4 separate regions of the Homo sapiens genome follow, and all the other regions are linked to region 1. The links come from fine-mapping of genetic effects on gene expression. A gene starts in region 1. Each other region holds a variant in brackets. All regions are shown on one strand. Distances are between the middles of the regions.

What was found.
Region 2: its variant is fine-mapped to the expression of CD247 in whole blood (TOPMed, PIP 0.94).
Region 3: its variant is fine-mapped to the expression of CD247 in whole blood (TOPMed, PIP above 0.99).
Region 4: its variant is fine-mapped to the expression of CD247 in caudate (GTEx, PIP above 0.99). The same link has a PIP of 0.9 or more in skeletal muscle.

The regions. Positions count from the first base shown.
Region 1 is chr1:167,515,353-167,523,561 of GRCh38, reverse strand. CD247 (CD247 molecule) reads left to right here and starts at 5,033. Exons shown (of 8, transcript NM_198053.3): 1 at 5,033-5,154. The coding sequence starts at 5,097. It also overlaps the pseudogene AKR1D1P1. RefSeq lists enhancers at 5,202-6,401, 5,673-6,636.
Region 2 is chr1:167,437,236-167,445,235 of GRCh38, reverse strand. It overlaps CD247 (CD247 molecule), which reads left to right. Exons shown (of 8, transcript NM_198053.3): 2 at 4,469-4,572; 3 at 5,836-5,892; 4 at 6,586-6,666. Among named protein-coding and RNA genes, the nearest start is that of CD247, 77 kb to the left of the region's middle. RefSeq lists a silencer at 5,693-5,822. The variant A/G (reference allele first, on the strand shown) is at 4,082.
Region 3 is chr1:167,452,497-167,460,496 of GRCh38, reverse strand. All of the region lies in intron 1 of CD247 (CD247 molecule), which reads left to right. It overlaps LOC101928512 (a long non-coding RNA gene), which reads right to left and starts at 5,431. Exons shown (of 4, transcript XR_007066724.1): 1 at 5,299-5,431; 2 at 3,380-3,492; 3 at 2,976-3,128. RefSeq lists silencers at 4,608-4,837, 5,178-5,267, 5,358-5,447, 5,468-5,577. The variant G/A (reference allele first, on the strand shown) is at 4,810.
Region 4 is chr1:167,541,513-167,549,721 of GRCh38, reverse strand. It overlaps CREG1 (cellular repressor of E1A stimulated genes 1), which reads left to right. Exons shown (of 4, transcript NM_003851.3): 2 at 1,601-1,720; 3 at 3,437-3,621; 4 at 7,421-8,209. The coding sequence ends at 7,424. Among named protein-coding and RNA genes, the nearest start is that of CREG1, 8.1 kb to the left of the region's middle. RefSeq lists a cis regulatory region at 1,137-1,154 and an enhancer at 1,073-1,217. The variant A/G (reference allele first, on the strand shown) is at 3,162.

The sequences.
Region 1 (8,209 bases):
CCATTCATTTATCTTCTTTTGGGAATTGTCTATTCAAACTTTGTGCCCATTTTCTTATTGAGTTGATTACTTTACTATTGAGTTAAAATAGTTCTTTACATATTCTGGATATAAGTCCTCTGTCTGATGTATGTGTTTGGACATAATTTCTCCTAGTCTATGGCTTCTTTTTCATTTTCCTACTGCTGTCTTTCAATGAACAAAGCAAAAACTTTTAATTTTGATAAAGTCCAGTTTACCAATTTTTTCTTTTATGGTTTTTACTTTTTGTGTTCTATCACAAATATTTTTCTCCTATGTTTTATTCCAGAAATTTTATAGTTTTGGGTTTTACATTTAGGTCTATGAACCATTTTAGATAATTTTTGTGTATGGTATGAACCGAGGGTCAATTTTTTTTCCATGTGGATATCCAGTTGTTCTACCACCATTTGTTGAAAAGACTACCATTTCCTGCTGAATTTTTCTTGTACCTTTATTGAAAACCAATTGACCATATATGTTTAAGTCTATAGTACCCTAAGTACTGTATGATAATTACACCCCTTTTATTGTTTGATATCTGGCAGGGTTATTTCACTCTCTTTACTCTTCTTTGCAAGAATTTTCCTAACTATTCTTGTGTTTGTTTTAGCATTATTTTTGTATTGAGATATAATTCATATAACATAAAATGTGTCATTTTAAAGTGCATACTTCAATGGTTTTTAGTATATTCACTCTGTTGCACACCATCACCACTGTCCAATTCTAGAACATGTTCATCATCTCAAAGGAACCCTCATAGCTATTGACAGTCCCAATTCCCCACTCTCCCCATCCCCTGGCAACTACTAACCTGCTTTCTATCTCTATGAATTTGTTTATTCTGGACATTTTATATAAATGGAATCATACACTATGTAACCTTTTGTGCCTGGCTTCTTCCGCTTAGCATAATGTTTTCAAGGGTCATCCCAGTTGCAGCATGTAACAGTGCTTCATTCTTTTTGATGGCTGAGTCATATTTCATTGTTTGGATACGGCGCATTTGCTTATCCATTCCTAGTTGTGGCCATTCGAATTGTTTCCAGTTTAGGGCCACTGTGAATAATGCTGCTATGAACATTCCTTTACAAGTTTTTGTGTGAGCCTAGGTTTCCGATTCTCTTGGGTATATATCTAGGAATAGAATTGCTGGGTCACATGATACTATGTTTAACTTTTTGAGGAACTGCCAAATTATTTTTCACAAGGGCTTCACCATTTATATAACCCACAAAAATGTATGAGAATTCCAGTTTCTCCACATCCTTATCAACACTTGTATTGTCTGTTTTCTTATTTTAGCTATCCTAGTGGGTGAGAAGTGGTATCTCACTGTCGTTTTGATTTGTATTTCCCTAATGACTAATGATGTTGTACATCTTTTCATGTGCTAATTGGCCATTTGTATGTCTTCTTTGGAGAAATGTCTATTTACATCTTTGGCCAATTTTTAATTGGGTTATGTTTTTTATTGTTGAGTCATAGGGGTTATTTATATATTCTGAATCCTAGACCCTTATCAGTATATTTACAAATGTTTTCTTTCATTCTGTGGGTTGGGTTGTCTTTTCACTTTCTTCGTTCTTTCTTTTGTCTTTCTTTGTCATCATATTTCATGATTTCTTGTGAACAAAGTATTGTCTAGAGGACAAGCATTGTAAGTATTAACATCGGAATCAGTGAAAACAATCAGTATAGATCAAGTTTTTAAGTGATACTTTCTCAGAAATGTATGTGTACAGGTCATTGAAGATTATCTATAAGCAATTGGTCTTGGAAAAGCATAATTTTTGAAGAACTCTCTTGCCCTGTGAGAGTGATCTAATATGAATGAATAAAATATATTTCTGTAGTTGAACTGAAAATAGGTACATCTCTGTTGTTGAATTCTAATAATTTTATTCTCTTTAAAAATTTACATAGAGTACAATTACCAGTGTTCTTTTGAACGTGCTATTTTCTCAAAATTCACATAGCTATCCCAATAACACTCTTAAAGACTTAAGCATAGTACTTTTATAAAGCCTCTTCTTTCAATATGTCTCCTAAAGTCCCCTTATAAAATGTCTTGTTTTAAAATAGCCGTCTTTGGAATACTTTATGATGCAGAGTTTTATTTATGTATGTTGGTTGTTTCAAGCCACTTCACGTAATGGTGATTCGATGATCAATGTGGCAAGAGTGAATATAAGACAATGTAAGTATGGACCACTAGTTATGTTGAAACTCAGACCCTCTGAGGATGCAAAAGAGAACCAGCAAGTATGCATCCTTCAAGCTGAGTAAAAGCTAAACAAACATACATCGGATAGAAACAAACAACAATAAAATCCTTATGGCTTTGTTGATCACTGTGGTGTTTAATTGACTCTATTTTAAGACTTTTCTACACTTAGCCCTCTCTCCCTACTCAAGGTGCAGCAAATCACTTTTTTGTTAATAATGCATGTCTGGATCTTATCTTGGCTGTGTCTGTATTGCAGTCAATGGTTCAAGTCCTCAAGGCCACTGCCAGCACCCTGGCACATGGGGGCCCTCTGCTGTCTTTGTTGTCCTGTTGACTGCTAAAGAACTCAGGCTAACAATGTTACTACCCACATTCATGAGTTACTTGTTGCTGGTTGTCATCTGTTGCCTTTCAAGTCTTTTCTGGAATCTAATTGTTTTTTGTTTGTTTGTTTGTTTTGTTTTGTTTTTGGTCTGGAACCCAGAAGACATTTATCTAATAAAATATTAGGTGATAATTTCCTAAGAATTTCAACAGATTTAAACATTTTGTCTTTAACATGGGTGAGTTAAAATCACTTACACTATACAAAAGTTAAGCATGTTTCCATCACCACTTTTCAGATAATAAAACCTCTTTCATTTCCGTGTCCATGGGGAACTATGCACCCTAAGGTCCTCCACACGTGGGAGGGGAGAATCTGTTCAGGAACTCTCTGAAGTCAGTATTCATCAAGAAATGGGTATTTGGGATGATCACACCACATGAGCATTTCTATGAAGCGGACATTTTCACTCCAGGCTTCAATGTCCTTGATTCAGTGAGAGAAAAGTCAAAGGCCTGAAGGTTTTCCTTGATCTTTTCAGGATTAAAGCTTTTAGGAATGACAACCACCCCTTGCTGGATGTTGAAACGCAAAATAACTTGAGCTGTGATCTTATTGCACCTTTTTAGAAGTGCATCCTTTAACGAAGGCAGAGAAGACATATTTGTCCAGGTTGGATTCCTAGTGGTCCCCAAAGGGCTATATGCAATCATGACAATGTCATGTTGTTGGCGAAATTTCAAAAGTTTTGGTTGGGTGTAATATGGGTGGCACTCAACCTCGTTGCTGACTGGCTTGGGTTTGAGTCCTGGGTTGTTCTGGATGAGCTCCAGCTGGCCTGCTGTTAAAACTGGATACTCCGAGGGATTTCACCAAGCCAGCATCTTTACAAGCTTCCGAAGTCTCCCAAGTGGCACACAGATTTGACTTGTGATATAACCATTTGCCATTCTCACCTATAGGGTAGATTTTGTCTTCTGGCTTAGCGGCCATGGGTATTTCAGTGATGTAAAGATCCACACAATCTAGCTGGAGGACCTTGAGCATCCTCTCTAGGCTCGGGCAGACCAGCTCTGGGTTGTGATTTGTAGCCCACAGTTTTCCACAGTAGAAGATATCCTTCCTCTGCACCTTTCCTTCTGCTATTTTCCCCCTGATGGCCTCCCCAGCTGTGTCTTCATTTTGGTATATGTAGGCTTCATCAGTGTGTCAGCACCCCAGACCAATGACAACCTTCACTGATGAAGACTCAGACTAAATGTAGAGACAGACTACTTGGGCTGTAGTGACATCTCTACCTACCACCTACTTGCTGTGTGGCCTTGAGTAAGTCATCGGCCCCCTTAGGGGTCAATTTAGGCTCTGAGTAGGTACCAAGTCTGATGATGGGAATGCTGTTTCCATCACTTAGAGGTATGCGGTGATTTGCAGGACTCACTTTCTTCATAGTGTCCTTTGATGCACAAAAACTTTTAATTGTGATGAAGTCCAATTTATCAATTTTATGTTGGATTGCTGTGACTTTGGATTATTGGCTATTCTTGTACATTAATTTTTTTCATATCAATTTTGGAATCAGCTTAACTTGTTCTAAAACTTTTTGTTGGTATTTTCAATGAAATAGATTGATTAATTAAGAGAGAATGGTGGTCTCCTTAAAAGAGAGCTTCCTATCAAAGAAGGGTATGCCTTTCCATTTACCCAAGTCCTTTCGGCGTTCTTCAGCAATGTTTTAAAGTTTGTTTCATATAGATATATTACAATTTTTAGACGAAGTTTATGTCTAGGTTTTAATGTTTTATTATTGTAAATTACTCTGGTGTTTAAATGTTGACAACTAACACAAGTGTTTAAAATACTATGTGAGCTACAGTATTTCACACAATGATCCAAATTCAGGCCAAGTTCAGATCTGCAACCTCAGATCTACTCCAGCTCTTTGCTTTATAGATAAGGAAGCTGAAGTCTAGAGATGTTGAGTGACTGACTCAACGCCACACAGCAAGTAGGTGGTAGGCAGAGATGTCACTAAAGCCCAAGGAATCTGTCTCTACATTTGTCCTGGACTCTAATCCAGGGTTCTGTCATTTTGCCAGCCACCATAAAATATTTGACAGTCTAGGAAAACAGCAAATGTTCTTACATCCATCGAGAACTTGTATTTGCCTAGAGATGGACTTTACCAATCAAGATAGGAATTAGATAAGAATTATTTTTTTTAAAAAAAGGAGCATTAAAACAATGGTCAAATGAGAGAAAAAGCAAAATTCAGACAGACAGATACATACACACACCCCAAACCCTCAAACCTCCAGGGCTTCCTGCCTGTGAACCGAAAGGGGGAGTGCGAATTTCTTGGCCCTGTCGGCAGGTGCTTTCTCAAAGGCCCCACAGTCCTCCACTTCCTGGGGAGGTAGCTGCAGAATAAAACCAGCAGAGACTCCTTTTCTCCTAACCGTCCCGGCCACCGCTGCCTCAGCCTCTGCCTCCCAGCCTCTTTCTGAGGGAAAGGACAAGATGAAGTGGAAGGCGCTTTTCACCGCGGCCATCCTGCAGGCACAGTTGCCGATTACAGGTAGGGCCGACGTGTCGACGGCAGGGAACTTCTAGAAACTCTTTGTGTATGTGTAGGGGAGTGGGTGTGGGTAGTGGAGGGTGGTGAGGGGCTGGGGTCTCCTTCAAATCCTGCCCTCCTCAAATCAATGGGCAAGTGAGCAGTGAGGGGTCCGGCCCGGTGCTGGCATCTGCTCCGTCACAGCCGAGTTGGGCATCAGTTCAGAGCCAGCTGCTAGAATACACAGCTCCTCCAGGTACAGATTTTTCGAGTGATAAGAGAGGAAGGAAGAAGGAAGCAAGAGAGCAACCGAGGCAGGCCCAGGGTAGAGAAACGGAGAGGGAGTGTTTCACAGAAGCTGGACAGGATCGGAAAATGTCAGCCAGGCCATGTTTCGTGCTGCGACGTTCTAGTCCCTTCAGCTTCTTTCACCCTCTGGCTGGCTCCGTCACTCAGCCCCTTTCTTTCTTCCTTTGCCAACAAAGAAGATTTTGTTGGTCAGTCAAGGTCATGGCCTGAAACACTCCAATGGGCCCGGGAGTAAGTGGGGTAACCAAGGAGGAGAGGGGCACAGGCAGGAAGCACCGGGTGGCAGCCTCCACAGCGCCTTCGCCACCTCATGGCCAAGCGTCCGTGTCTAGGCTCAGCCTTGTCATGGCTGTCCCCACACCCACGCCTGGGACTGCCGGGTGACGCACCATCCCAGGCTCCGTGACTCACCCCAGCCTGCCCCTTAGGCGGCCATCTAGCCCAGCCAGAGGGCCCGGCATTGACAGAACACGGGGCAGATGAGACGATGTGCCTGGTTAAGTCACCACCACGAGCAGCGCCCAGCCAACAAGAGTGCTTGCTCCTCACCTCATTCCCGATCGTGGGAGCCCAGCTTTGCTGCAAGCCTTTAGCTTCCACCATGTTTTCTAGCCCAGGTAATGAGGAAGAAAACCAGTGAAAAGAGGACAGGACAAACTGCTCAGGGGGATCAGCCTCGTGGCATCTTCCTGAGAAGTGGGGCAGGCTGAATTTCAATCTAAAGAAACAGGGAAGGTGAAGCAAGCAAATGTCCTCGGCCCACCTGATCGCTCCTGGTAACTCACCTGGGTGTGGGAATTTGTTTAGGGGCCCTGTTGGGAGGGCAGGAGAGGCCATGGGCACTTCTGCTCCCACCAGGGAGCCAGGCACAGCCCGGGCCAGCGCCTCGGGGGATTCTGAGGCCCGTGCAGCTGCAGGGGTTTCTGTCAGGTCACAGCTGTTTTCTCAGAAAAGCCTTGTGGGGTCTAAGTCACACACACAGTGTGGCAGAGTGAGGGTGCCTGAGCTTGCTCAGAGCAGCCCATCCTTGTGTGCTGGGGACAAGGGGACCCAGAACGCTGGAATTTAGTGACTTCAGGGGAGACAGCCAGGGGCAATAGCTCCAGCCTCTGAGCTTCAGGCTTGAGACACCACACCAGGGAGCTCATATAACCTTTCAGGGTCTTTACCTGCAGTTTCCTCACTGGTCCATTTGTGTTCGGCTTGGAGAGACCAAGGTAGGGGCAAAGTGAAGTTAGAAAGAAAAATGAAAGATTGTTGGGTGGCGGTGGCTGCCAAGCGTGGTAAACAGAACCCCACCCAGCAGACAAGATGGGGGCCGTGCCTCATTTCCACAAATAGGGGGCAGGAGGAGAAAACTGCACATTGGCTGGATTTTTTGCTTCTCAGTGCCACTTACTTTGCCTCTATGGAGACTGATATTTTAGCTATTTTAGATAAAGCTAATAGACAAAAGTGTTTCAAAATATCCTAGCCCAGAAACGAGGTACGGTAAGGCAAAGCGCGACTCAGAGAGGCCTTGACACCGAGGGCTGCGATGGTGCTTTTGCTGCCTGAGGGGACACCTCCACAGTCTCCCCGGAGGAAAGGCCGCACATAGAATTTCAGTCAGGTCTTCTCTCTTTTCTTGCTCAGTTAAGTGACCCATTGCATACATCCCTTTTAAAATGTCTACTTTTTACTAAGCTGTTGCATTTGCATTTCTTTGGAAATGCCCAGATTATTAGGATCAAAGCAAATGATGACCTGGTCTGTCCACATGAGGAGGCCTCCCTGAGAGAGAATCTACCAAGACAGTCACCAGGGCTTGAGGCCAGAAGATCCTAAGATGGCGTGCCTAGTGGCATGGGCACACTTGTGCCTGCAGAGCCCTCAGTGCCTCTAACTCCCTACTCTGCAGTAGCCAAGAATGCACCCAGCGGTCAGTGTGGTGTTTGTCTTTTATCAGTGAGGAGATGGAGCTCTGACATGCAGCCTTGGGGAATGCAAAGCTTCCAGGCTTGTGAGTGGCTCTGCTTTTAGGAAGGTGGCTGGACGTGGTAGAAAGAGCCAGGCTAATTTCAGGTGGTGTCCCAGTGCTGCCGCTTCCTAGCTGTGCAACCTTAGGCAAGTTACTTAACCTCTCTGGGCCTCAGTTTTCTCACCTCTAAAGAAAGACTTGTAATACCTTCTTTGCAGAGATGTGACAATGAGAAGTAATGTAATGTGTCCAATACATAGTAGACAGCCAATAAGTAAACATTGTATTTACTATTACTATTATTACATCTCGGACTGTCTTCTTGTTCTCAAAACAGGAGATGGAAACCCATGGCTGGGATTCTTCATTTGCTTTCAATATGTTATAAAGCAGCAGTGGGCATTTTCTCCATCTGTTGCAATCCAACTCATCCCTCTTCTGATTTCTGGGCACACCCATACCAGCACAGAAACATAACAATGATTGCAGAGGTAGGCCCGATAGTGAAAAAGCAGCAAAGCTCTGGCTGGTCATAGGATGACTGTTACATCCACCATTTTCATTTTTTAAAGATACTTACTCTGTAGGGGAATATTCTCCCGAAGTAAAAACATGTCTGAAAAAATATATGCAAGATGGGGGCTGTGCCCCATTTCCACAAATAGGGGGCAGGGGGATTGGCTGGATTTTTTTACTTCTCAGTGCCACTTACTTTGCCTCTGTGGAGACTGACATTTTAGCTATCTTAGATAAGGCTCATAGACAAAAGTTTTTCAAAGTATTACTTTGAAAGGAATCAGAAACAAA
Region 2 (8,000 bases), 78 kb after region 1:
TATCATATTTGGCCAGGCACGGTGGCTCATGCCTGTAATCCGAGCACTTTGGGAGGCCGAGGCGGGCAGATCACTTGAGGTCAGGAGTTTGAGACCAGCCTGACCAACATGGCAAAACCCCATCTCTACTAAAATTACAAAAATTAGCAGGGCATCGTGGTGTGCACCTGTAATCCCAGCCACTTGGGAGGCTGAGGCAGGAGAATCACTTGAACCTGGGAGGCAGAGGTTGCAGTGAGCTGAGGTCATGCCATTGCACTCCAGCCTGGGCAACAGAGTGAGACTCCACTTAAAAAAAAAAAAAAGTATCGTATTTAACCCTCACCACCATCTAATGAGACAGGTAGTGTTGTTATCCCCATTTTACAGATGAGAAAACGAAGGCTTAGAGAAGTTCCATAATACACAGTTCAGAAGTACAGTGTATAAGAAGGACCAAAGCTTTAATTTTATTGCATCTGTTTGACAGAAATTTACATTTGTTGTAGGGTATGGCTGCATCTCTACAGAAGGCAGGGCTTCCCTCTCACATGCTGTGGCCCCTGTAATGATGCAGGTCTGAATCTCAATCCATTCATGGCCATGCAGTGAAGTCCCCATGCCCAGGTTCCACTCCAGGCCACTTAAGTCAGAGCCTCAGGGGAGAGGGCGGTGGATTGAGAGTCTGTGTGAGAATGCTCTATTAGTCTCTGGGGCTCCTTTCAGATGCTGAGGTTCTCCTGGGTGCTGTACTCTTGGGTAGGGATCAGGAACATTAAATAAAACAGCTTCTCCACTTTTACAGAAAAGTAGCTACCATGTAATACCCTGAAACCTCCTAGGAAGCAGCTGCTGGTCCCTTTGGGATGGAATTGGTAGAAATACGAAGAAGCCACAGGAGCGCGCACAGGGAAGAAGCCAGGACCAAGTAGAGAGTGGCGATGCGGTGCCTTTGAGCTGGCATCCTGCAAAACTGTCTGTTGTCCAGGGAAGCTCCTACACCTTGTGTGCGGCCTCAAGAGCTAAGACTTAAGCCCCATGAGGGCAGGGACTCAGAAGACTCGACCCAAATATCAGACATCATTGTCTTTTGATTCTCATCACAACCCTTAAGGTAGATATGATTACCCTCCATTTAATAGATGAGGTAACTGAGGCCCAGAGAGGGAAGTGACTTGTCCAAAACCACACAGCTAGTAAGTGGCAAGAGAAGTACTCGAACCCACCTGCACGCAATCCAGAGTTCATTCCATTTCAATAGTTCCCGGCACAGAGCAGATGCCCAATGAATATTTAATTAATTGCGTAACTGAATCAGGTCCTGCATCCCTGCATGGAGCTTTCTGGGCCATGACTGTCTTCCTCAGGCCCATCTCTCCCAGCACAGGTATAGTGGGACCGAGGAGAGGAGGGTCCTACACAGGGAATTATGTTGGGGTTAATATCCTCTCCTCCACCCAACCACACACAGCACACTTGTCATCAGTCATAAAACTATGCAGAAAGAAAGGAAGAAGGAAGGAGGGAAGGAAGAAAGGAAGGAAACTTGTTCATATTATTTATCTCAGGGACATGCCCAATCCCCCTGCCCCTTTGTGTTGTGCTGAGTCTGCACAACACAAAGAAATATTTCTTATTTGTGCTAAATTTACTGTCCAGTAATTTTTCTGTTCTAATTTTCTGTGACAAGCAGCTGAGTGATTTTCTCCTGGATTTTCTTCTGAGTCTCAACCAGTCCCATAAATCGCCACGGTTATCTCCTCTGCAGTCCTCACAGCAAAAAGTCACCCCAGCTTTGGTGGCCTTCATGGGGGCTGGCTTGTCCCCCAGAGGCCTTTAGATCGTCCCTAGGTCAGTGAGGACTTCCAGCAATACCTTGGGGCCAGAGGGCAGGCACACCTGGGGCTGGGCCCAGCATCTTCCTCATCACTGAAGTTCAGCCCTGAAAAATTCCATGATATCGAGTGATTGTCTACCCTGTGCCCTGCACTCTGATGCTGGGGCTGGAGGAAGAGGCAATAATGAAGATGCAGCCATTGGTCTCAGGTGCTGACAGCCTAGATGGAGGGGCATCTGAGTCCTGAGGAGTTGGGTTTGTAGAGCGCTTTGGGGGATATAGGCTCTTGAACCGACATCCTCTCACTTTTTCCTCAGGGGCTCAGGTGGTGGGACAGTCTGATTTCAACAGGTGTTGAGTGGAGGGGTAGAACGCAAGCCTAGAAAAAGATCTAGCTCAGCAGGCCAGGGGGTAGAAAAATATGGGTGTTCAAGGAAGAATGGGGGGAAAAGACAAGAGCAGAGGGACAGGGTGGCACAAAGCTGTGGTCTTTTCAGGCCTGGACTGGTTATGGCAGAGCCCTAACATGGCTGGACAAAGAGCTTGGACTCTCGTCCGAGTGGCTGGGTCATCAATGGTCTCTGGGCAGGGTCTGTGGGAGGTTTGTAGAGATCAGCTGCCTGGGGGCAAGAGGGGTCCTGAATTAGGGTTGGAGTCAAAAGCCAGGGGACAGAGGGATTCAGGGTGGTGGGGGTGGGGACACTGGCGGCTGCCTTTGAATCATCTGCTTCCATAGTTCGTCAGGGAGGCCAAAACGTTGCTGGCATGGAGGGGTAGGCAGGGCTGGCCCAGGGGCAGGAAGGGGGCGAGAACTGCTAGGGATCAGTCCTGGGCTGCCTGTGACCGTGTGCTCTGAACCCGAATACTCGGTGCCTCAGTGTCCGAGTGTGGGTGGCAGGAGGATCTGACGATGATTACATTTAAGGCAGTGTCTGAAGAAATGTTAGTTTTCACCCTGTTCAACAGAAGAGGCAGCTGACAGAGCATACATAACCTGCCCCAAATCACACAGCCAGAAAGAATGACAGCACTCCCACATATGGCCTCCACTCCCTCTGCCCTCATCTGGGTCCAAAGGCCACCAGAGGGCGCCCAGGCCTTGGGAGACAGACACTAGCGGGGCTGGCCTGGGACCTCTGCTCTAGTTACCAGGCAGGGGTGGAGTGAGATGGGTACCACACCCTGTTTTACAGGTTGAGTTGCTGCACGTTTACCTAGTAGGAAGTATGGTCAGACTAAAATCTGAGTCTCCTCATTCACAGTGCAATGATGTTCCAAATAAAAACACTAACTTTTTAAATTTTTTTTTGAGACGGAGCCTCACTCTGTGTGCCAGGCTGAAGTGCAGTGGCGTGATCTCGGCTCACTGCAACCTCTGCCTCCCAGGTTCCAGCGATTCTCCTGCCTCAGCCTCCAGAGTGGCTGTGATCAAAGCTGCCAGCCACCACGCCCAGCTAATTTTCGTATTTTTAGTAGAGATGGGGTTTCACCACGTTGGCCAGGCTGGACTTGAACTCCTGACCTCAAGTGATACACCCATGTCAGCCTCCCAAAGTGCTGGGATTACAGGCGTGAGCCACCGCCCCCAGCCCAAAAATGCAAACTTTTATTTAACCAGAGTATTTAGTGTATCTGCATTCTTCAGCCCATTGTACTCCAATGGCAGTGCCAACTAAACGTGCATTAACTACAGCTTGACAAAGGTTAATATGGCACTAGGAGTTAGGGGCCCCTGGGAAATTTGCAGTGGGAGAAGCTAACACAGAAGGGATCTTTGAGCTGCATTTTGTAGGATGCATCAAATGTTACCAAATAGTAGGGTTTCAGGGAGAGAAATGGAGGGAACATGAAGAGGGAACAGAGAGTGCAAGGCACAGGGCAAATAGTCTGGAAGAGCAAGGCGTGTCCTGGGAATGGGGTGTGTGTAGTGGGAGGAGGGGAGACAGAGAAGGCTGAGGCCATGGAGCTGGGACTAGGGGACAGGGAGATGCTGGGCCTAGGTGGGGAGGGGCACCAAAGGTACCTCTGTCTGTTGGCCATGAAACCCTTCAGGGAACAGGGAAGGGAAGCCGAGCACCAGATCCCACTGTCCTAGGCGGGAGAGTGCTTGGCACTGAGGAGGCAGGGAGTTGGGGGAGAGTTAACCCAGATTCTCCCTGTCCTAGTTAACTGTCAGATATTGAAATGATCTCATTTGACCATCATTTGACCTATTGTCTCCCTGTGGGTAGGCCTCAGAGCCACACACCTCAGGCCAGGAGTACC[A/G]TTCATCCAGACGTGAACATCTTCCCGAGGCTTCCAGAGTTCTTGGTTCACACCGGGGCTAACATGGCTGGGCTTCTGCTGCAGTGGCAGGAGCTCTGTGCACAGAGAACAGCCTCATCTGCTCGCCTTGTTTCCACCTCCCCTCCCATTGCCCCAGGTTCTTTGGCCCCACAGCGGCCACATCTGCCGTTGGTGCCAATAGGTTTTCCAGGAGCTGGTTGAGGTGGGAGGGAGGGAGAGGGTTGTGATCAGGCTGAGGCATGGGGATTGGATATAGTCTCCGTGTCATGATTTATTTGGTCAGTCAGTCCTAGTGCCACCCTGGGGTAATGGGGATGTGTTCTCGTCACCTTGGGCCTGGCTGACCAGCTTTATCTCTTGGCACAGAGGCACAGAGCTTTGGCCTGCTGGATCCCAAACTCTGCTACCTGCTGGATGGAATCCTCTTCATCTATGGTGTCATTCTCACTGCCTTGTTCCTGAGAGTGAAGGTGGGTACCACTGGGCTTTGGGAGGAGGGCACGGGGTCCCCCACTTGATGGATGTTCAGAGGGGCCTTGGTCTTGGAAGGTCTCAAGCTCGGGTGGTGCCTGGGGCTTGGTATCCAGGAGCAAAGCAAGGACCAGCCAAGTGTGTGCCTTGAGTGGGCTGAGGAGGAGGTGGCAGTGTCTGGCTGAGATGGACAGGGTAGGAGGGAGAGCCTGGTGCTAGGCACCTCCATGACAAGCCGTACAAATGTGTGCACATCAGAGTGTCCCAGGGAAGGCGATGCTACTGGTGACAAAGGGGCTTACACTCAGGCAGAGGTCCTTCTTTCCAAGTGTGAATGAAGGCCATGTTAGCCTTTCTCTTGAAAAGGCCCTTTCCTCATCTGTAACTGGGGAGCTGACCAGAGCGTGGGTTTTTCACTTGGTGCCTTGCAGACCCTGGATTTCTTCGTGGGGCTGGTCATGGTGTGGGCAGAGATTGGAAGAATTTAGGAGTAAAGGGGAGAATCCAGTCCCAGTCATCACTTCAGTGCTTCTCAACCCATTTCTTGTTTGAATTTTGGACTTTGGCATAATATTTTATTTGAAAAACCAAATCTTACTGAGTTTCTTGTTTTAAGTTTGAAAATGCTGCCCTAGATGATTTCTAAGGTTGTTTCCAATGCTCTAGATCTGTAAGACATTGCAGTTTCTCCCGCCTGAAGCGGCATGAAGTGAAGCAGGAGTGAGGCTGTGTCAGCTTCCCACAGATGCTCAGGACACTAAGCGAACGCGAGGCTTCCTGGGCACCGGGGCAGCCGGGCGATGGCTGAGGGCTGGGCGAGTGATGCACGTACAGTACACTGCTCCGGGGGTCAAGATAGGAGGCGGGATCTTGACCAGCCGCCATCCACCCTGGATTGTCCTCAGAGTCCCCGGAGGAAGGGATCCTAGAGAATACTCATGTCCCCGGGGGCGCAGACCAAGAACCTTATACCTCTGCGCACGCGCGAGGGCGCTAGCCCGGGAAGAATAAACTCCAGCGGGTCCTGGGCCAGCGTGATGAATGCACGTGTCACAGGCGGGAGGAAAAAGGACAACTGGGCTCAGAAAAAGGGGCTGCCACGCCCCGGCCCCTGCAAGGGCTCAGCCCCAGGAGGCAGGGCAGCATTGTTAGTTGCCAAGGAGCGGAGTAGGGCTGTCCCTCGGGTCGCCGCGCGCCCTGGCACCCCGGCTCCCCTGCGCGCCCTCGCGGAGCAGTAACGCGCTTTGCTTTCTGTGTTGCAGTTCAGCAGGAGCGCAGACGCCCCCGCGTACCAGCAGGGCCAGAACCAGCTCTATAACGTAAGTCAGCCTCGCCGTAGACCCTCCGGAAAGGAAGGGCAGCCTCCTCCTCGGACCTAGGGAACGCGCCCGCCAGAGTCTTGGGTTTAGGTTTGGTCCCTAGCTATCACCTCTGCGACCCGGCTGCAACTTGTTTAACCTCAGTTTTCTAACCCACAAAACAGGTGTAGTAATTGTACCTGTCTCAAAGGGCGCCATAAAGATTACATGCTTTAATGTCTTGATGCATGGAACGAGCTTAGTCTAGTGCCTGCCACTAGTGAGCCCCCAAGCCATCAGCAATTTGCAAAGGCTAGAGGGGGGTGGAGAAGGAATGTATTAGAATCTTCCCAGAGGAGGGGAAAGCGATTTCACACTCCCTGTGCAATGGGACTGTGGTGAAATTGACTACCACCTCTGAGCCCCCACTTCTCTATTTGCTCATGAGAATGTTGATCCTTATCCCGTTGGACTGATCAGCCTATAGTACTTGGTGACCTTTGGGGATCCCATCCACTGTCATGTTAAGGCGTGTTCTCTGAGATGTCCTCTGGGATGATGGTCTCCAGATGGACCAGTTACCATCCCCTCCCCAGCCCCTGCCCCTCTTTTTATGAGCCACCCCAGAGAGGGAAACCACACTCCCCAGTCCAGCTGGCTCCATCCTTCTGAGGTTCCTCCGTCCTGTGTCTGACACTTTCTTATCTGTTATAGGAGCTCAATCTAGGACGAAGAGAGGAGTACGATGTTTTGGACAAGAGACGTGGCCGGGACCCTGAGATGGGGGGAAAGCCGGTAGGGGTTCCTCTACCTTCCTGTGTGTTCCTGCATGTGTGGTGGGGCTCAGCCCAGGCTGTGGGGGAGGGCTCCTCAGCTCACTCTGCAACCAGACTCGACCCTCACATGTGTGGGCCCAGGACAAGAGAAGAGATGGAGACCCACTTGCTGCCGCACCCTCTTCCTTCCTCCTTGGCTCCATTCTGCATCTCAAGGGGCCTCACCCCCGGACGTGGCACCCCACTGCTCATGTCTAAGCTCTACCCACTTCCCCTCAAACTGCTCCTTGGCCATCCTGAGATGCACATACGGTGACGCCATCTGCCCCAAGAGGACAGACCTGGTGAAGAGGTCCATACAGGAAGGGCCCAAGACCCCTGGATAACCCACATATGGTCGGGGTATGGTCCCTGGGGGGTTTGACCTCTTGGCTTTGTAGACACTATACCTGTGGGTATACCTGTGGGTAGGGGAGCAGCTGGATGACACCACAGTAGGGTAGGGTCCTCTTTGTTTTTTCCCCTTCATTCTGATTTCCTTCCTTCCTTCCTTCCTTCCTTCCTTCCTCTGTCTTTATTTATTTTATATTGACAAATTATAGTTCTACATATTTATGGGGTACAAAGTATTGTTATGATTTTTGAATATAATATGAAATGATTAAATTAAGCTAATTAACATATTTATCACTTCAAATCTTTAACTTTTTTGTGATGAGAACATTAGCAACTTACTCTTAGAGATATTAAAATGTATAGTACTCACATATTAACTATATTCAGCATGTTGTGCTGTTGATCTAAAAATAAATTACTCTTCCTATCTAATTGAGGCTTTGTACCCTGTGACTATCATCTCCCCATTCCCCCCATTCCCCAGCCTCTGGTAAACATCATGCTACCTGTCCATGCTTCAGTGAGTTAAACTGTTTTAGATTCCACATATAGGTGAGAACATGGAGTGTTTGTCTTTCTGTGCCTGGCTGATTTCACTTGGCATAATGGTCTCTAGTTCCATCCATGTTAGAGTGAATAACAGAATTTCTTCCTTTTTAAAAGCTGAATAGTATTCTATTGTGTGTATGTTCCACAGTCTCTTTATCTGTTCATTCTTTGATGGACACTTAGGTTGATTCCATAACTTGGTTATTGGTTTCTTTTGTTTTGTTTTCTTTTTTTTTTTGAGACAGCGTTTAGCTTTTGTTGCCCAGGCTGGGGTGCAACGGCACAGTCTCGGCTCACCACAACCTCTGCCTCTAGGGTTCAAGCAATTCTCCTGCCTCAGCCTCCCGAGTAGCTGGGATTACAGGCATGCGCCACCACGCTTGGCTAATTTTGTAGTTTTTTTAGTAG
Region 3 (8,000 bases), 63 kb after region 1:
GATTTTTCTGAAGCACAGGTATATTGCCCTTCAACATCTGAGACATACGGCTCTTGGTCATAATCTTATTTCTTTATTTTTATTTTTATTTTTTGAGACAGGGTCTCACTCTGTCACTCAGGCTGGAGTGTAGTGATGTGATCTTGGTTCACTGCAGCCTGGACCTCCTCGGGCTCAGGTGATCCTCCCACCTCAGCTTCCCGAGTAGCTGGGACTACAGGTGCGCACCACCACACCCAGATAATTTTTCTATTTTTTGTAGAGACGGGATTTCGCCATGTTGCCCAGGCTAGTCTCAAACCCCTGGGCTCAAGCCATCCTCCCACCTCAGCCTCCCAAAGTGCTGGGATTACAGGCGTGAGCCACCACACCTGGCCCATAATCTTATTTTTGTTCAAACTTTCAGAGGATTAGGGAGGGAGAGTAGAAAACACAGGAATGATGCCAGGAAACCTACCCTGGGTTCAGCCCCAAAGACAAGAATTCGGGGAAAACCTACCTGACTTGATCATTTATTCATTCATTAAACCCTTATGATTGCCCACTGCATGGTGGTTAGCTGGGGAGTGAAGAGTCAAAGAAGAATAAAACATATCCCAGGCTTTGTGGAATTCTCAATTTTTAACGGGGACAGACCTGTCACCAAATATTAGTGAAAAATGTGCCAAGAACTACAGAGCATCTGAAAAGTTAGAAATATTACCATAAACTTACTTTAAAACAGAACTTTAGCCACATTTTCAAATAATATGCTCATGTTTTTCTTCAACCTTCACACACCATTTCAGGAAGTATCTCTACATTTAAAGCGAGTCCAGTTGTTAATGTAAAAAAGGTACAAGAGGCCAGGGCACAGTGGCTCAAGCCTATAATCCCAGCACTTTGAGAGGCTAAGGCAGGCGGATGACCTGAAGTCAGGAGTTTGAGACAAGCCTGGCCAACATGGCAAAATCCTGTCTCTACTAAAAATACAAAAATTAGCCGGGTGTGGTGACGTGTGCCTGTAATCCCAGCTACTCAGGAGGCTGAGGCAGGAAAATCGCTTGAACCCGGGAGGTGGAGGTTGCAGTGGGCTGAGATCATGCCACTGCACTCCAGCCTGGGTGACAGAGCAAGACTTCATCTCAAAAAAAAAAAAAAAAAAAAAAGAGTTGTAAGGAAAAAGCCAGAGAAAGTAGTGTATTTCTTGAACCTTTAAAAAAAATTAACAATTGGACCCATTTCTTTACATTTAGAGGTACTTCACCTGAAAACATATCTAAAGGTTACAGAAAAACATATTGACTGTATTATTTGAAAATGTAACTAATATTCTGTTTAACAATAAATTCTCCCCATGATTTTTTTTTTTTTAAAATTTTTGAGACACAGTTTCACTCTGTCACCAAGGCTGGAGTGCAGTGGCTTGATCTCGGCTCACCGCAACCTCCCCCTCCCAGCTTCAAGCAATTCTTGTGCCTCAACCTCCCGAGTAGCTGGGATAACAGGCGCACGCCACAGTGCTCAGCTAACAGATTTTTTTTTTTTTGTATTTTTAGTAGAGACGGGGTTTCACCATGTTGGCCAGGCTGGTCTCGAACTCCTGGCCTCAAGTGATCCGCCTGCCTCAGCCTCCCAAAGTGCTGGGATTTACAGGCGTGAGCCATTGCTCCCAATTTCTCCATGATTCTTGACTTTTAGGTCACTCCATAGAACAGAAACAGATGCCCATTGTGAAGGTTCAGTGAGCCAAGATTGCACCACTGCACTCCAGCCTGGACAAGAGAGCAAGACCCTGTCTCAAAAAAAAAAAAAAAAAAAAAAAAAAGAAAGAAAGAAAGAAAGAAAAAAACAGATGCCCATCAAAAGGAAATGCATTTTGCTGAAAGTAGCGCAGTTTTCCCAGGGAAATAACATTTGAGCCGAGCCTTGAAAGATGAGTAAAAGTTCGTCAAGCTGAAAAATTTCATCGTAAGATGAGTCGAACACAGGGTCATTGTGAGCCGTTGGCTGGCCCCCGCAGAAACCTGGCAGCCCCTTTCAGGTGAACCTCCAGTCCATTCTTTATTCAGGCACCAGTAGGATGCTGTGCTGGGTGGCATTCCTGCCCCAGCAGGGGCTAGGCCTGAGTCACATGCAGGGCAGGGGCCTGGTCACAGCCTGGGGCCTCACCTGAGAAAGACCTGTGAGAAAACATCCCAATCCCACTCATTCCTGCCCACACCAGGGCTAGGCACGTGGGGACAGCAGGGACGGTGAAGAGCATGTTTGGGAATGTGATGTTCTGTGGTGGCTTGTTAGGAAATCATAAGTAGCTTTCTCCTGATGACCAGCTTGAACACTGGATCGCTGAGCAGGGCACAGGTGGAAGGAATCAGAAATTACTGTATTAACACCAGTATTTTGGAGGCACAGAAACAAGGGGTGAAGCAACTTCCCTAAGGTCACGCACTTTAGGTGATAGCACTGGTGTAGGCTCCCATAAAAATGTTCTTTCAGGTCTCTTCGAACTCATAGGTTCTTGAAAATGTGAGGGGCGAAATTCCTTCATTTTATGGCATTAATGACCACTAATCAATCAATCATTCTCTCAATTATCTGAGCAATTATGTAATTACTGAGTCCTAGTGATGCCTACAACTGGGCTTCCTACAGTCCTGCAGTGGTAGAAACAAAGGAACTAGAAATCACGGTGTTTACCTTGGAGCAACCTACAATCTAGTTGCATAGGAAAGAACCCATTTGACACAATGAGAGTAACAAAAACAACGAATGCAGTTGACATTGGAATGGGCTGGAGCTTTGGGAGAAGGAATCCTTAGGGGAAGATGAAAGCTAAGAAAGGCTTGGAGACCATCAATGGAGAGGAAGGGAAAGGACAGTATCTGGATGGAGAGCTCTGGGCAATATTTAGGAAGACTCAAGAGCGCCTGCTCATGAACAGATGGACAGACAAGCGTGTGCTCCCTCCTGAACTCACAGACTTACTGGCTCACCTCACAGCAGGGCTCCCCTTCCAGGCTTTGCAGGTGATATGGTTCCTTCTCCATCCAGGATAACTCCAGTGAAGGATGGACAGAGGCAAGATTCTAGCTCCATTTTGGCTGCAATGTGTCCTTGTTCTTTTCTCCTTTGCTGGTCATTCTGGTCTGTTTGGGAATTGGACTCGTTGTCTCTGGTCAACTAACCTCTAACCCTGCCAGGGGGACTAAGCATGCTACAGAGCGCCCAGGTCCCCCACCTCCCACTTCCATATAGCCCTGAGCAAACCACTTAGAGTCTCTAAATGGCCCAGAGCAGCTTGTGGCTCCATTCCAGGAGCAAAAGCACCGCTGAGAATGTGCGGATGCAGCCTGAGACCCCCACCATGCCAGCTCCTAGCGCTAAAGCAGGCTGGTACCTCACACTGCTTTCAGAATCTTCTAAGACACTGTGGGTGTGAGGTCTTCCAGGCAGGCATCAGCACCCACCAAGCCGGTCCTCAGAAAACGACTGGAGGTAGAGAAAGCAGGGCTGGAAAGAGACAAAGAAATTCCAGGACTGTCCTCACTAGCATATTCTAAACGAAGCAGATCTTCAGGCAGCCGTGTTAGGTATGATGTCCCCGAGAGAGTACACATTAACATGACAAAGTTTGAGGAATGAACATAAGATGGCCATGCAATGTCAAAGTCATGGCTCACTTGGGTGCTTCTCTGACAGAAGAGATAGAGTGTGGCACCAGTAGTCCCTGTTGGGTTCTGTGTCTACAACAGAGAGCTTTGGGGCTGCCCTCCCTCACAGAGCAGGCTTTCTGCAAATGCTCAGGTAGGGCTGGATATATTCGTAGAATCTTCCAGACCCATCCAACCCAGAAGGTGGTGGTCCCCGAAGAGTGGTGGTGTACATGAGAAGCTGGGGGAACGTGTTACAAGGCAGACCCCTGGGCCGGCCTTCAGAGAGTCTCATTCACCTGCTCTGGAAACACTGCTAAGGACTTGGCCTCTGCTGTGAGCCAAGAGGAGGAAAGAAACCCCTCTCACTCTAGAACTACCTTTTTCTGCCTCAACCACCTTTTTTCCTGTCTTTTAAAAATTTCCAAAATTCTCTGCATCTGTAGTTTTTGTTAAGTACTTTGTCATGCCACCTGGTTAGCTCAAGCCAGAGACAATCAGGAAAAAGCTCTATCAGTGGCTGTCAACTCAGCCACTTCCCTCCGTACCGTGGTCCCTCATTCCTGCAGCTGGGTGGGAGCCAGCACAGCCCCAGGCACAGGCAGTGCCGGCATGTATTCTCGGAGCTCCACACAGGAATGTCCCACTCTAGAAGGGAAGATAAAATTTAGCGCTCTCCATGCACTGGGTATGTGTGCCAGGAAAGCCCTGAAACTTTTGCTCACAGGGCTCAAAATGAAAGCAGCTGTTGATTCCGAGAGTGGCAGGTTTGACGACATTTGGAGTCCCCCTATGTGAGAACGGAGAGACCCCTGGCGCTTCCTCCCTGCTATCTGAGGAAGGGGGAGGGGGCGGGGGGTGGGAAGGCCCAGCCTCTCAGGGTTGCGTCTCTCCGGGGCTTCCCAAGGAGGCAGCGCCGGCCCTCCCAGTCTTGCCACTGTCGCCGTGCTCGTGTGCCGGGCCAGCCGGAGCCAGGCCCGATCCTGGCCACTGTGCCCACCACCGAAGGCAGGCCCCAGGCCGGGTCCCTCTCCTTGCCTGTCTGGGGGACCCTGGTGTCGGGCTCCTTTGATATCTAAAAACCAGACCCTCGGCCCCCAGCGCCGGAGCCCGGCGCAGATCCACGCCCTGGTCTCTCAGCGCGGGGGCCTGGGGGCGGGTGCGGTTCGGGGACAAG[G/A]GACCGCAAGTGGGGGCGGGCGGCAGCGTGTGAGCAGCTCAGATGGGAGATCACGCGCGATAACCCGGGCCCTGGATGGCAGCGCTCGACAGGAAACCTCGAGCGAGGAGCCAGCTGGGGGCCGGCGGGGCGGGGCTGCTGCTCCCGTAACCGCACGGGAGCCGCGGCTGGCGGCAACACGGGGCTGGGAGCCCACCTTGGCTGCATGGTGAGGAAGGGCCGGAGGTTCCTTCCCAGGCCCAGCCTCCTCTCTGTCTTGCGGAGGGCGTCCTTCACGGGTGTGGTTTGTGACTTTGGGACGGCGGTCCCGGCCGCCTGGGCTTTGGGCGTAGTGGGAGAGCTGCCCAGCCCGCAGTGCACCCGGCGTAGCTTTGACCCGGGAGGGACCCGGCCCCAAGCCGGACGCGGGGAGGCCAGGGCGGAGAGGCGGCGTGAGCGCGGCTTAGCAGGCTGAAGCTCGTCTCTTTAAAATCCCAGCGAAATATTCACCTATAGCGTATCGGTGACGGTTTTAAAATCCAAGTGGCATTTCCTCTCCCAGCCTCCGAAAAACTCGGTGCAGTGGGCAGCGGCTCGGCGGGGCGTCCCCCTGTGCCTTGCGTCCGGGCGGGCGGCCCGCAGCGGGAGGAGCCCAGGCGCGGGCACCGAGGGGCGGAGGCCTGGCCCCGGCTCGGGGAGCTCCGGGAGGAGCTTGGGCTTGGGCTAGCCGATGGATGCACGGGTTTCTTCCGGGGAAGCTGCGGGGGCCACAGGGACTCTGAGGAGGCGCCCTCAACAGCCTGGGACCGGCAGGACGGATCCCAGAGCGAGGGCGACCAGCGAGCGAGGCAGGTGCGGCCCTCCTGGCTCCCCCTCCGCCCCTGTCCTCCCTTGCGTTGCCCAGGCAGCCTGAGCTCCCAAGGCCCAGAGGGTCTCCAGCTTACAGTTGCAGTGGGACTGATTCGGTGGATCGGAAAAGCGCTTTCATCTCACTCGGCTGCTGGTGAAAGCATCTCGTCCTTACAGCACTGGATAATAACAATAGTGATCATGCTATTTACCAGCAGTAGTTGGTTTTCTGTGTTCATATATAAATGTAACCATATTCACCAAATACCATTATCGTGAAAGTTCTGTATAGCTGAGGTCCTTCCAAACCCCGGCAAGTCATCACCAGAAATGTACTGAGCCAGGGCTGGGCGCAAAGCGCTTCGCTAAATGGGCCAGCCCCTGTTCCTCCACTTTCTGCCCTGCCAGAATCTTGCCGCACACACCTTCTTTGATGTAAGGGTTCATGTTATTTGTTTTTGTTTTGGTTGTTTAGTATTATAAATATTATATACTATCATAGTTAGAGTTCCAAACACCACAAAAAGGTGTAAGGTGGAAAATAAGTGAAATTCACCCAGCCTCCCCCTCCCGTGGCTCCTCTGCAGAAGTAACCGTGGATGACATTTTTGTGTGTGCGGCCCTCCAGATATACATATATTTTTAACGTGTTTTTTCTTGTAAAATAATATAACATTACTATTTTCATTTTTAAGTGTAATTCAGTGACATGAAGTAAGTACATTTACATTATTGTACAATCATCAGCACTATCCATTTCCAGAACATTTTCACCATCCCAAACAGAAACTCCATCTAGATATATTTTTATGTATATATACATATATATGCAGCTTACATAGTGTTTTTTTCATACACAAGTATCTAGAGCTTTTTTTGTTTTTGTTTTTGTTTTTGAGGCAGGGTCTAACTCTGTTGCCCAGGATGGAGGGTAGTGGCATGATCACAGCTCACAGCAGCCTCCACCTCTTGGGCTCAGGTGATCCTCCGACCTAAGCCTCCGGAGGAGGGGGCTGGGGCTACAGGTGTGTGCCACCACACCCAGCTAATTTTGTTATTGTCATTATTTGCAGAGACGGGTCTTGCTATGTCTCAAACTCCTGAGCTCAAGAAATCCTCCAGCTTCAGCCTCCCAAAGTGCTAGGATTACAGGCATGAGCCACTGCACCTGGCCACCTTTTTTAAAACCTAATTATCTTGAAGATCTTTCATGGTAGCACATGTAGAATTATCTGTTGTGTTTTTTTTAACGGTTATATATGAATACACCAAAATTTATCAGGTTCCTAGTTGATGGACATTTACATTATTTTCTCTGTATACTGTGAGAGTTTATCCTCAGAAAAAATTAAATTCTCAGAGAAATGGCAAAATACTGCCTGGAATTTTGACATAAGGGGTTTGCTCGAAAGTAGATTTTTTTGAAATGGTGCTAATTTTCAAGAGCAAAACTTGAGGGCAGTGTGCTGCGTGAGAAAGAACAAAGGCCCGGCAAGACCTGGCTTCTCGTCCAGGCTCTGACACATGAGCTGTTTGACTGCGGGAGAGTCACTTCACCTCCCTGACCTTCAGTCTCTTTATCTGCAAAGTGGAGCAAATAAGATCTACCCGGCTTACCTCACTCAATTGTTGTTAGGATCAAATGAAATAAAAAATATAAAAGGGTTTTGTAAACTGAAAGTGTAGAGCAAATGTTTGGTATGACAATGATTGTTACAGCATCAGTCCCTGGAGTCAGCCAGAGAAAGCTACATGTCCAAGTTGGCAACAAGAGGTAAGAATAAGTGTCTTTCTCTCTGTATATCTATAATATATATATATATAATATATATCTATAATATATATATATGCACACACACACATACACACACATATTGCTCTCTATGTATATATGTACATGCATACATATATGTTTGTATTGTTCTATTTATGTGTGTGTATATACACATATGTATGCAAGTGTGTGTGTGTATCTTACACTCTATGTGCCTGGCATATAGCAAGTGTTGTCTGCTAACCTGAGAGACTTGTCCACTGGCGTTGGGGGGCTCTTGGTGGAATGAGCGGAGGGAACTGAAACATGCAACCTGCTCACCAAAGGAGATCACTTGCCTGTCATTGTTTACTCCCAGAGCGTGACTGCAGGCATCGTCCCTCCCTCATGTTTCCTTAGCACCCTGTGCCCCTCTCTCGTGGGATGATTTGTTTCCTTGCCCACCTCTCTGCTCGGCTGGGAGGCTACATCTGTGTCTGTCACCTCCACCCTCACTGCCCAGCACAGTGCGTGACATTTTCTCCTAGTAAGGATGGCCACCACATGACCACTCGTGAGGTGCCACTCCTTGGCTTGTAGGTGGCCATCT
Region 4 (8,209 bases), 26 kb before region 1:
GGTGACAGAGTGAGACACTGTCTTAAAAAAAATATTGCAGGCCAGGTGCGGTGTCTCACGCCTGTAATCCCAGCACTTTGGGAGGCCGAGGTGGGTGGATCACAAGGTCAGGAGTTCAAGACCAGCTTGGCCAACATGATGAAACCCAGTCTCTACTAAAAATACAAAAATCAGCTGGGCGTGGTGGCACACACCAGTAATCCCAGCTACTCGGGAGGCTGAGGCAAGAGAATCGCTTGAACTTGGGAGTTGGAGGTTGCAGTGAGCTGAGATCGCACCACTGCACTCCAGCCTGGGTGACAGAGCAAGACTCCGTCTCAAAAAAAAAAAACAAAAAAAAATTGCAGTTATTTGGGTTGGGAGTGAAGCCTGTTTCAACATTTTAACCCAAATCAGCATTTTATCAAGCTCTCCAGGCAGGTGGTTCTTAGAAAACAGTGCCTAAGGTTGGCCCACAAATTACAATCTAGACTCCTTAACTTAGGTTGGAGCCCTCTCCACTCCCAACCCCAGGCTCCTCCCGTAGGAAAGCCCTTCTTTCCAGCAAATCAGGTTTCTTGGTACTGTTCATCAAGTCTTAGGCTCACCCAGTTCTGTGTTTTTTGCAGTCAGTGTCTCCTCTCCCTTTAATATGTCCTCCCACCTTCTATCCTGGTTTTGAATATATTATAAAGCTCCTTACAGTTCCTCTATCACTCTGGTCTATGCTGGACATACACATTTGTTTATGTCTGCCTTTTCAACCAGATTATAAACTCACGGAGGGAGAGAGTTTACCTGAGTGTCCCCCTCCCCTTCTTTGGTCTCCTGTGGTGCCTTGCCTAATAGTTTCTAGACAGTGACTATTTGGCTAAATGATTTCAAAGAAATCTCTTTATGACTCTTTGTTTTGATGGGTCAGTGTGAAATGGCAAAATTCTCCACACAAGGCACTTAGAGCTTAAAGAGCTAAATAGTCTAAAATGCGATGTGTGAATTTTGCTATAATCTGTCAACAGTGCCTTTTATGAAGTTGATTTCTGAATAAGAAAGCATTAAGAATTTTACTTGTGTTACTTTTTGAATGTGGGATAAAACTCATTGTTACTAAAGCAGGAATGAACAACTTCTCCAGTTTTGAAATCACATGACAGTTTCTGCTAATGTAAGATAACCAAGTAGCATGATTCAGCTACTTTCTTGCTTAAATCGCGTAGTTAGCCAATTGAGCAACTGTGGTGTTTTTAGCAATGGTTTTGTATAGAGTTTAACCCTTTAAATCTTTCAGTGAAGCCTATAGAACAGCCTTGAATTTGGGTGTCACTATAATTATAATTCTTCTGATGAATATGGAATAAATTCAGGGTTTCAGAAAAAGAATATTGAAATAATTTTTACCAAGTCAGTTCATTTTAAATATGAACCCCCGCACCCCCTTTGGGGAGTGGTCAGGATACTTTCCAAGTATTATTTTCCCCTGAGTGGAAGGTGATGTTTTATGATTCATTGTTTCGTGGAAGACCAGTCAAGCTCTAGGGACATCATGTATGCAACTTTTGAAATTTATTACCTCTCCAGAAACCATATTTCACATGAGAGGATCTTCATTTTCTCTCTATAGGAGAATCCATATGCTACACTGACCATGACTTTGGCACAGACCAACTTCTGCAAGAAACATGGATTTGATCCACAAAGTCCCCTTTGTGTTCACATAATGCTGTCAGGAACTGTGACCAAGGTAAGTAGTTATCCTACAGGAAGGGAGATGGTTTCAGAACACCATCGTATTCACAATGAAAGAATAGATCATTTTTCTTTTGAGACAGAGTCTCACTCTGTCTCCCAGGCTGGAGTGCAGTGGTGTGATCTCGGCTTACTGCAACCTCTGCCTCCTGGGTTCAAGCGAGTCTTGTGCCTCAGCCTCCCTAGTAGCTGGGATTACAGGCACGCACCACCACACCCAGCTAATTTTTGTATTTTTAGTAGAGATGGGGTTTCACCATGTTGGCCAGGCTGGTCTTGAACTCCTGACCTCAAGTGATCCACCCACCTCGACCTCCCAAAGTGCTGAGATTACAGGCGTGAGCCACTATGCCTGGCAGAATAGATCTTTTCAGAATGAAATGCAGTTGATTTGTGATTGCCATGCCCAGTCAGAACATGTTCTATTCTAATAGGTGAAGTAATTCCATGAAAACCAAACGTTTTAATAAGTTGCTTTCATATAGGTGTTAAATAAGATATGACAAAAATGAATGATTTTCTGAAGCCAAGCAGATGTAACAACTATGAAGCTCCTGTATATAAAGTTATTCTTACTAAAGAGCATCTGGTTGACCAAAGCCCTCTACTCTCCATTACATTTTACATTGGTATAATGTTTTTCCATGTCTGGGCTCCTTGTCTCCATATTTTAACAGTGGCTTAAAGCAGAGAAAACATATTAAGTAGGCCAACCAGAGGACTATCCATTACTGAAAACTGGAAGTGAATTTAGTTTGGATCACCTGCTGAAGGGAAGAGGTCAAATACAATCTCAGGAAGAGCAGTGGGCATGGTGTCAGGAGTGCTGATCTGATTACCCAGCCAGCAGATTTGCTTTTTGACCGTGTCAATCATTAATGCCTCAGACAAGTGTTATTTATGGTCTGTAAATTCTTTGTGGATGCATCTCTGTAGTTGAGTGTCCTTCACTGGCAGGAAAAAGATGGAGGAGCAGCACATGCTTTTGAGTTCTGTTATGTGGTTTCTAAACATTTTTATCCTTCAGTACATTCATCTGTATGTTTAACATGTCCATGTTATGGGATAAATATGCTAAACATTACATGTCTTAGGCACCAGTAATGTTACAGTACTTAGTGCTAGTTATTCTAATAGCTCAAAATGCCTTTTTACCAATGAAAGTTGGTATTATACTTACAGTGGTTTCCCACTTCGTGGTATCTGTTATTACCAACAATTGAAATCTTTATTCTCTGCATTCTTTACATTTCCTTTATTTTCTCTTGATTCCTTAAGGTTAAGATCAAGATTTACAAGTAAGTAAACTCTTAGGATTTATAGAATGCTAGAGTCACACATTCTTTTTTTTTTTTGAGATGGAGTCTTGCTCTGTCATGCAGGCTGGAGTGCAGTGGCACGATCTCGGCTCACCGCAAGCTCCGCCTCCCGGGTTC[A/G]TGCCATTTTCCTGCCTCAGCCTCCTGAGTAGCTGGGACTACAGGTGCCCACCACCACATCTGGCTAATTTTTTTTTTTTTAGTAGAGATGGGGTTTCACCGTGTTAGCCAAGATGGTCTGAGTCTCCTGACCTCGTGATCCGCCCGCCTTGGCCTTCCAAAGTGCTGGGATTACAGGCGTGAACCACTGCACCCGGCCTAATCACACATTCTTAACAAATGAGAAGATAAAGTGTTACTGCCATAAGAATGTTTATTTCATATATGTCCTTTAGGTGAATGAAACAGAAATGGATATTGCAAAGCATTCGTTATTCATTCGACACCCTGAGATGAAAACCTGGCCTTCCAGCCATAATTGGTTCTTTGCTAAGTTGAATATAACCAATATCTGGGTCCTGGACTACTTTGGTGGACCAAAAATCGTGACACCAGAAGAATATTATAATGTCACAGTTCAGTAAGTACTTACACATCTTTCACCTAAGATTGCCGCCCTTACAGCCATCCTCAGCCTTCTAAGGCAAGGGGGGTTTAACCGTTTCATGTGCCCTGGACACCCTGGGCAGTCTGGTAAAGCCGCTGACCCCTTCTCAGAATAATGTTTTAAACACATAAAATACAGAGGATTAAGAAGAAAATCAACTATAATGAAATACATTTATGAAAATATTTGTAAATGTGTGGTATAATCGTTTTATTAATATATTAAATATAAGATCTAGTAATAAGTCTATTACTTTTTCTTTTTTTTTCAAGACAGAGTCTTACTCTGTCACCCAGGCTGAGTGCAGTGGCACCATCTCAGCTCATTGCAGCCTCCACCTACTGGGTTCAAACGATTCTTATGCCTCAAGCCTCCCAAGCAGCTGGGAATACAGGCATAGACCACCACACCCAGCTGATTTTTTGTATTTTCATAAAGAGGGTGGTGTCGAACTCCTGAGCTCAGGCAGTCTGCCTGCCTCAGCCTCCCAAAGTGCTAGGATTACAGGCATGAGCGACCATGCCTGGCCTTTTCTGTGCTTTTAAAGTAGTGAGGATTGAAGACAATATTTTAAGACATCTGCAACACCTGTGACATGATATGAACGTATCTGTGATTTCTCTATTTCTGTTGGAGACAGTCACAGATAGGCTGTCACCCTGTGGTTTATTCCCTACATTCATTATTGAAGGAAATGATACATTCAGTTAGAGCCTAATGAAAATGAAAAAAAAATTTTTTTGAGCCAAGTTCGCAGACCCCTGAACTCTGTCTACAGGCCTGGACACCAGGTTGAGACTCCATTTTAAGGCTGTGCTTATTGGGCCCTGAACAGAGCCCAGTTATGACCCACGATGGCATTTTCTCATGAGGCTTAGACTCAGGTGCTCCTGGACTGTGAATGCCCTTCATCTGAGTCTGAGCAAGTAACCCCATCCCATCAGCCCCAGTACTACAAATGCCTATGGGGATGTGTGGTTTATCCCACTAAGAAGTGCATGGAAGGGAGGAGGCTGAGATAAAAGAGGCCATGGGAGAAAATAAAGCCCAGGACCTGAAGACAGAAAGGGAAAGGAAAGAAGAGTGTAACTGGAGTCTTTGGAGTTAGCTAAGGGTTCAAATGAGGGAATACAAGGGACTGGTGCTTCTCCCAGGTGACACAGGGAATTCTGGCATATCTGGGGAGGTGATAAGAACAGTAACAATAACAGCTAGTGTCCATTGTTTATTACTGGCTGGGTGCTATACTGGCTACTTTTCATGTATTAACTCATTCAGTTCTCACCACATCCCTTTCTTGCGCAACCTTCCACCGCAACAGGTAGGTGCTGTTTTTCCACATGTGTGAAATGGAAAGCTGATGCACAGAGAACAAACTGGCCTAAACTGTTTGTTCTTGCAGCCAGGAAGTGGTGGTGCTGGGACTCAAACCCAGGCATTCTTGCTCCAGAGCCATCACCTGACTTCTATCCATGATGCTGTACTTCTCCTCTGGCTGCCTCACTGGTAGCTGGCCAGGCTCCTAGCTCAGTGTAATTTATAATGCACTTTCTGCTTGTAATGATTGACTGCTGTTTCAGGAGATTACGGTGATGATAACTAAGGTAGACTTGTAGGTTGTAGGTCATTTGAGGGCTTAAATTCTTAGCATTTATTTAATCTCTGTCTTTTTCAATTGTAGAACAATTCCGTGTTGAACTATTGACTCCCTACCATGATTGGAAATCTCAGTTTTGTTTTGTTTCTAATTTTTTTTAATTCCAAGCAGGGCCTAGGACAGTGTGTGTCATAGAGCAGGTGTTTAGGAATGATTGTCTGGCTCATTACTTGAGACAAACACTCTCACACTCTGTTGGAATAAAGAATCCCACAGTCCTGGCGCTTGTTTTGCTGCTGTGCATGCAGGAGAGGCACGGGCCACTGGTCGTCTTCTGGGCTGGCAAAGCCATCTGACTTCATAGGAATATAGAGGTAGCAATTACAACTTTATTCCCTGGCAACAAATTATCAGGATGACTGTTAAGAAGGGCCTGCTCTTCGAAGTTAAAGTTTACTTTCACAGGACATAATCTCTAAAGCGCAGTTATCTTTATATAAATAACATGCCCAAAGGCAGTGCCTGGTTTAATAACAAAATAAAACTGTTTTCCCATAAGTCTCCACACTGAATAAGTGAGTAAAACAGATACTTTTGAGGTTCCCACTTTATTATGCTGACAAAGGAGCACTTCTCTGCAGCACAGAGATAGAACATTTTTCCCTTGTCCTGAGAGGCGGCCCAAAGGCTAGAGCAGATGTGACTCTTCTGAGGCAGTGCACCAGAACCCGAGGGATGGGCAGGGCCTGAAAGCTGCCCGCTCTGACCGGGTGCCTCTGGCTAGGAATTGTCCATCTCCGAGTCTAGGAGTGCCCCCACTAATCCCACCCGCCAGGTTTGCCACCAGAGCTGTTTAATAGTCCGGGGAGTGTACAGTGATATCTGTGAGGACCAGGGCCCCCATCTTCTTGGAGAACCACCCACAGGGGCCTCACAGGCGTTCTGGAGCTTCCCCACATTGGCAGCCACCTTGCTTGGCTTGCCCAGATCGGTTTTGGAAGGTATTATTCCTCCAAATACCACGAAGCCCTCTGCATCTGAAATCTGTTTCACACAGATGGAGACTGCCACTTGTGAGAGCTGATACGGAGCTTAACTGAATGTGGTTTGCCTCATTGGACTGTTGGGTGAAGCCCCCATGAGCATGTTTGCATGATCAGTGGAAGGCTTAAATGTCTACACGAAGCATTTGCTGGCACCCTGGAATAAGCAGTTCTTTTTTTTTTTTTTGAGATGGAGTCTCACTCTGTTGCTCAGGCTGGAGTGTGGTGGTGCGATCTCAGCTCACTGTAAGCTCTGCCTCCTGGGTTCATGCCATTCTCCTGCCTCAGCCTCCTGAGCAGCTGGGACCACAGGCACCTGCCACCACGCCTGGCTAATTTTTTGTATTTTTAGTAGAGGCAGGGTTTCATCATGTCAGCCAGGATGGTCTCAATCTCCTGACCTCGTGATCTGCCCGCCTCGGCCTCCCAAAATGCTGGGATTATAGGTGTGAGCCACCGCGCCCGCCCAACAAGCAGTTCTTATAAGCATAAGCATTGCTTTTGACCACTGTTAAGTCTGGGCAGCAGCATGTTTGTGCTAAGCCTCATTTTATCTCCTCTGGCGCACATCCGGATATTTCCTAGCAAACACACAGGTAACAAAAGGTCATGGATTACAGACTTGCCCAGTCTTGATACCTAGAGATGGATTCCCTGGTTGGTGGCAGCAGAAAGGGGGAAAGTTCACCTCCCAGCTGTGGTCACTATCACTGGGCAATGGCTAATCACTGCTCTTCTGCCCTGATGTTCAGGACCCCTTCTGTTCTCAACTATTTTTGTCTTTTAAGCCTTCAGATACTCTTAAATGAGATAACAACAGCAGCCACGGCAGTGGCCTGCTTCTTGCTACATCCTAGTAGCGTTTATCAGTGTGTCAGAATCATACTTGGAGAGGAGGGTTATTGCTAAAATGAGGATTCCTAGGCCCCACCCTCAACCTATTGAAACCGAAACTCAGGAGTCTGCATTTTAACAAACCCAAGTGGTTATTTAGTATATTCTAGTGGTTGAAATGAACTGAAAATCTTAATTTAGATCAGAAATTTTATCTAGTCCTTCCCTAGAATGAATTAATTTTTAAGATTTGTTAACCCAGTTTAACAAAATAATTCTTCTCTGTTCCCCTTTCTAGGTGAAGCAGACTGTGGTGAATTTAGCAACACTTATGAAGTTTCTTAAAGTGGCTCATACACACTTAAAAGGCTTAATGTTTCTCTGGAAAGCGTCCCAGAATATTAGCCAGTTTTCTGTCACATGCTGGTTTGTTTGCTTGCTTGTTTACTTGCTTGTTTACCAATAGAGTTGACCTGTTATTGGATTTCCTGGAAGATGTGGTAGCTACTTTTTTCCTATTTTGAAGCCATTTTCGTAGAGAAATATCCTTCACTATAATCAAATAAGTTTTGTCCCATCAATTCCAAAGATGTTTCCAGTGGTGCTCTTGAAGAGGAATGAGTACCAGTTTTAAATTGCCCATTGGCATTTGAAGGTAGTTGAGTATGTGTTCTTTATTCCTAGAAGCCACTGTGCTTGGTAGAGTGCATCACTCACCACAGCTGCCTCCTGAGCTGCCTGAGCCTGGTGCAAAAGGATTGGCCCCCATTATGGTGCTTCTGAATAAATCTTGCCAAGATAGACAAACAATGATGAAACTCAGATGGAGCTTCCTACTCACGTTGATTTATGTCTCACAATCCTGGGTATTGTTAATTCAACATAGGGTGAAACTATTTCTGATAAAGAACTTTTGAAAAACTTTTTATACTCTAAAGTGATACTCAGAACAAAAGAAAGTCATAAAACTCCTGAATTTAATTTCCCCACCTAAGTCGAAACAGTATTATCAAAACACATGTGCACACAGATTATTTTTTGGCTCCAAAACTGGATTGCAAAAGAAAGAGGAGAAGAATATTTTGTG